Linked DNA regions of Homo sapiens: region 2 is linked to region 1. Evidence: fine-mapped expression QTL. A gene starts in region 1. The other region holds a variant in brackets. All regions are shown on one strand. Distances are between the middles of the regions.

Region 1 (2,927 bases):
AAACTGAGTACACGTTGCTTTGCAAATGTCCCATCAGTGCCTGTGATGCAGTATAGCCTACCTCCTTCATTTGACTGGAAGCTCCCTGAAGGCAGGGGCTGTGGCCTGTCTCCTTTCCTTCCTCTAGATCTCCCCCTGGTGCTTAATACAGAGCTTGGATCACTGGGGTTGGTCAATATGTTGACTAAGGCAGCATTCAAGAGTGAAACTGCAAACAGGCTTCCCAGTTATCTTGGAGGAGGACTCTAGAGCTTTTTACCTGAGCCATGCTGATTTCTCACTTAAGGCAACCCAAAAGTTCAGGAGTTCCTAGGTCCACCTTTCCTTGAGACACTGTCGTTTTGAAGAACTGTCACCAAATCACGGTAGCGACTCCTTCGTGTCCCATCAGTCCTGTTGCCATATTGAACTTTGTCTTCAAATAGAACTTAGTGTCCTCCGAAGAAAAGATAGGTGTTCCAAGAATCCCTGGACTCTGCCTGGCTCCTGCCTATTGTCTGAAGAAAAAGAGAGTCTACCAGTCTTGGTTTTCCAGTTGAATTCTCTTGATGAAGCTCACGATCTGTTTCAGAAACCTGAAACCAGAAAGGAAGAGGGGGGCTGCTAAATGCAACATCTTCAGGCCATTACAACGTGCGATATGAATTTTTTTTTTGCTGGGCGCTCTCTGTGAAGCTCAGAACGAGGACATGAGTCAAGAAGAGTTTTCTTTCTAGGTCAATAGGAGGAACTGGTCTCCTGGGCAAGGAGTGGAAGCCAACAGGAGCAAAAGTAATTGGGGCCTCCTATGGAGGAACTCTGCCAAAAGGAAAGTTGCTTGGATTTGCCATCTCAGGAATGGAAGAAGGGGGCGGAGACCCTTTGGGGCTTTTGTGCCCAGTGGGCCGGCCCGAAAAGCTCGCACTTTACAGAGGCGGCAAGACTAGGGTGGAGGAAAGCTCAAGGGCCATCGCTGGGTGCTTCGGTGGCGGGCAGAAACGGGACTGGCAGTGCCCACACGTGTGCGTTCTCCCCGTCCGCCCGAAGGTAGGGAAACTTGCTGCGGAGGTGGAGGACAGGCAGGCGAAGCCCGGCGCGGCGTGTCGCCCGCCTCGCTCCGGCCAGCCAGCCTCTGCACCCGCTGCACCAACCGGGAGCAGAGCCGGAGAGTGCCGAGAAGCGCGCGAGATGCGTGCTCGCGCCCGCGTCCCCTCCGAGAGCCCTCTCCCGGGCCGGGGACGCGGCGGGACGCGCGGGCAGGGGGCGGTGTGCGCGCACGGCCTTTCCCCTCCCTCCCCCGGAGATCCCCCTCCCTTCGCCACGCGCCCCTCCTCCCCTCCCCTCCCCCTTCCCGCGCGGCACCCCACGGCTTGCGAGCTACTGAAGCGCTGCCGTCTGTACGGACGACGCTGCGGTCTTTGGGGCTTGCTCCTACCTGCCAGGCGCGGCCTCCCGCTGGCTCCCTGGCCGCGCGGCGCCTCCTCCAGGCCCCAGCACACCCTGCCAACCCCACCGCCGCGGCTGCCCCCACCGGGACCGAGGCAAGTTTACAAACACCAACCCCGGCCCGTTTCCCCGGAAGCACTTCCCCCTCCCCCTCGTCCTCTCCGCCGAGCGGCTGCATCCACTTCCGGGCTCGGCAGCTAGACTAGCGGGGGCAGCCTCAGAGCGGGTGAGCTTGGGGACGCACGGAGAGGTGCAGCTGGGTGAGTGGGCGGCGCCGTGCGCCGAGGGCATGGAGGAGGGAGCGCTGAGGCCGGCGCGTGCGCCGTGGCCGGGGCGCGCCCCGGCCGCCATCGAGACTGAGGGCAGGACCCTCGGCCCTTCGATGATTGTACGCTGGGTGCTCGATGGGAGGAGGGTTTGCTGGGTGAGCTGGTTCAGACTCCTTGAAAAATCATCGTCACTCTTTCTTCCTCGCGGACGTCCTGCCCATCGCTCTGAGCCGGCGCCCCAAGTAGAGCCAGAGTAGTTCGTACCCAGCCTTTTCACGTAACTCGGCCGAGGTGGTTCTTCTCCGAATTTTTTCCGTCAGGCCCAGATTAGCAGATTTTGGGGTCAGCTGGGAGAGGCGTTAACTTTTCTTCGCACACTCTTGCTTTGTGCGCTCAACCACAGTCTGAATTCTCGCAGAGGCGTTCCTTGAGTAGCCCTTGGCCACACTGCTCACCTCCCTGCAGAAGTCAAAGCCCCAGCCCTCCTCTGCGAATCCCGAGGCCAGCCTGGTTGGTTACCTTCTCCCCTTCGCCCTTTACTCCAGGCCGTCCAGCATCAAACACTAGCCTCCACACGTGGAAAAGACCCTGACTCCCACAGTAGACTAGTCTTATGGGAGTCCTGGCTCTTGGGCCAGGCTGCATTAGGAAAATGGAAACCAGACTGTCTTCAAATTCTTCTGCCTAGCCTTAGCCATTAGAGAGAGGTCCTGCTAAAGATGGACTGCAAATGCGCTTGATGGAAGGAGATGTCAATTCCACTGAAGTCCTCATTTCTGCTGTAGGTGATATTATGTCGTGACTTTAGGAGAAGTAATGGTGATACCAAAAGAAAAAAAAAACTGTATGATGAAAAAAAGACAAGGATTCTCAACTTTTTTTTTTTTGTAGACAGATTTCATTTCCCTGAGCCACTCCATGATTTGGGCCATTGAAAGTACGTTTTTTGTGTTTTAGGATCATTCTAAAATAGAGACAAAATGGAGAAAGAGAGAGATAAAGAAACATCACCAGGAATAAGTCTTTTAAATCTTTTTTGAAAATTAGCTCCTACTTATTTTACAAATCGACACAACGCAAAAGTATAAAAGACACAAAATGGTTATTCTCCCCCTCTACTTATCCCATGCTCCTGAAGGGAATCATTCTTACCAGTTTGGTATATATGCTTTTAGGCTTTTTTCTGTGTTCATACAAAAATCTTTTCAACCAGTATTTATTGAGCACCTGTAA
Region 2 (2,927 bases), 34 kb after region 1:
TGCCTCAGCCTTCCTGAGTAGCTGGGATTACAGGCATGTGCCACCATGCCCGGCTAATTTTGTATTTTTAGTAGAGACAGGGTTTCTCCATGTTGGTCAGGCTGGTCTGGAACTCCCGACCTCAGATGATCCGCCCGCCTCGGCCTCCCAAAGTGCTGAGATTTCAGGTGTGAGCCACCACACCCGGCTGGAGGTTGGGTTTTGTATAAAGATGGCAGTGTTTTCACAACCCTTGATTTAGCATTAGCATTACAAGTTTCATAGAATTATGGCCCATGGAGGCTGAGGCAGGAGAATTGCTTGAACCCGGGAGACGGAGGTTGCGGTGAGGTGAGACAGCACCATTGCACTCCAGCCTGGGCGAAAGGCAAGACTCTGTCTCAAAGAAAAATAATAAAAAAAAAAAAAAATAAAGATAATGGCTATTCAGGACTGTTTCTTCTTAGGTAAACTTTGGTAGTTTTTGTCTGTTAAGAAATTTGTTTTGGCAGCCGGGCATGGTGGCTCACGCCTGTAATCCCAGAACTTTGGGAGGCTGAGGTGGGTGGATTGCTTTGAGCTCAGGAGTTTGAGACCAGCCTGGGCAACATGGTAAAACGTCATCTCTACCAAAAAAAAAAATACACACACACACACACACACACACACACACACATATACGTGTATATATACGCGTGTATATACGCGTGTATATAAGCGTGTATATACACGTATATATATACGTATATGTGTATAATACGTCTATATACGTATATATACATACACATATATACATACACACGTATACATGCATATATACACACATATATACATACATATATACATGTATACGTGTATGTATACATATATACGTATATATACATATATACGTGTATATATACATATATACATATACACATATGTGTGTGTATATACATATGCATATATGTGTGTATATATACATATACATATATGTGTGTATATACGTATACATACATGTGTATATATATACATGTACATACATGTGTATATATGTATACATGTACATATGTGTATTTAT[G/A]TACACATATGTACATATGTGTATTTATGTACACACATGTACATATGTGTATATATGTATACGCATGTACATATATGTGTATATATGTATACACATGTACATATATGTGTATTTATGTATACGCATGTACATATATGTGTATTTATGTACACGCATGTACATATATGTGTATTTATGTATACACATGTACATATATGTATTTATGCATACACATGTACATATGTGCACATACGTATACATACATGCACATATATGTGTATATATGTATACATATATGTATGTATATGTGCATATACGTATACATATGTGCACATATACATGTGTATACACATATGTATGTATATGTATATATACACATATATGTGTGTGTATATGTATATATACACATATATATGTGTGTAGGTGTGTATATGTATATATACACATATGTGTGTGTATGTGTGTGTGTATATATATATATGCACACACCCCTATATATATGTGTATGTATATATAACTAGCCAGGCTTTGGTGGCTTATGCCTGTAATCCCAGCACATGGGAGGCTGAGGCTGGAGAATTACTTGAGCCCAGGAAACAGAGGTTGCAGTGAGCTGAGATCGTGCCACTGCACTCCAGCCTAGGTGACAGAGTGAGATCCTGTTTCAAAAAAAGAAAGAAAGAAATTTGTCTTGGGGACACTGCCTATGAGGTAGCCCTGTTCCACAAGAAGCAGTTAAAAAAAAACAGTCTCTTTTCTTTCCTTTTTTTTTTGAGATGGGGTCTCACTCTATCTCCCAGGCTGGTCTCAAACTCCTGGGCTCAGGCAATTCTTCCATCTCAGCTCCCTGAGTAACTGAGACTACAGGAGCATGCTTCAAGCCTGGCTATTTTTTTTTTCTTGTAGAAATGGGGTCTTACTTTGTTGCCCACACTGGTCTCAAACTTCTGGCTTTAAGCGATCCTCCCGCTTCACTCTCCCAAGAGCTGAGATTACAGGCATGAGCCACCAAACCTGTCCAGAAATTTGTCTATTTCATCTACGTTTCAGCACTTATTGACATAAACTTATTTTCTTATTATCCTTTCAGTTCTGTAGAACCTATATTGTCACTTTTTTCATTTCTGATATTAATTATTTGTGTTTTCTCCCTTTTTTTTCTTCCTGTTCATTTTAGTGAGAGGTTTATTGCTGTGATGGTTGATTTTTTTTTTTGGTAGGGATGATGTGTTCTTTTTTTGTTGTTGTTTTTTGAGATGGAGTCTTGCTCTGTTGCCCAGGCTGGAGTGCAGTGGCATGATCTCGACTCACTGCAACCTCCACCTCCTGGGTTCAAGCAATTCCCCAGCCTCTGCCTCCCAAGTGGCTGGGACTACAGGTGCATGCCACCACTCCTGGCTAATTTTTGTATTTTGTTTTAGTAGAGACGGGGTTTCACTGTATTGGCCAGGTTGGTCTGGAACTTCTGATTTCAAGTGATCTGCCCACCCCAGTCCCCCAAAGTGCTGGGATTACAGGCGTGAGCCACCTCGCCTGGCCTGGGATGGTGTTTTGCTATGTTGGCCAGGCTGGGCTCAAATGAACCTCCTGCCTCAGCTTCCCAAAGTGCTGGGATTAGGGACATGAGCCCTAATGTCTGGCCTGTGACGGTTGATGTTGTATGTCAACTGGCCTAGGTTAGAGAGCTGGTAGACATTATTTCTGGGTGTGTCTGTGAGGCTGTCTCTAGAAGAGCTTGCATTTGAATTGCTGTACTGAGGAAAGAAGATCTGTCCTCATCAATGTGCAGGCATCATCCAATCACTGAGGGCTCAATAGAACAAAAAGGTGAGGAAAGGGCACATTCTCTGTCTTCTTGAGCTGGGACATCAATCTTATGCCCTTGACACTCACCTGAGGACACTGGAGG

What was found.
Region 2: its variant is fine-mapped to the expression of CSAD in whole blood (TOPMed, PIP above 0.99).

Annotation. Positions count from the first base shown.
Region 1 is chr12:53,179,325-53,182,251 of GRCh38, reverse strand. CSAD (cysteine sulfinic acid decarboxylase) reads left to right here and starts at 1,327. Exons shown (of 17, transcript NM_001244705.2): 1 at 1,327-1,520. It overlaps ZNF740 (zinc finger protein 740), which reads right to left and starts at 1,530. Exons shown (of 7, transcript NM_001004304.4): 1 at 1,415-1,530; 2 at 260-575. The coding sequence starts at 268. RefSeq lists silencers at 513-807, 1,161-1,460, 1,751-1,840 and an enhancer at 1,503-2,061.
Region 2 is chr12:53,145,686-53,148,612 of GRCh38, reverse strand. No RefSeq gene overlaps it. Among named protein-coding and RNA genes, the nearest start is that of ZNF740, 34 kb to the left of the region's middle. The variant G/A (reference allele first, on the strand shown) is at 1,040.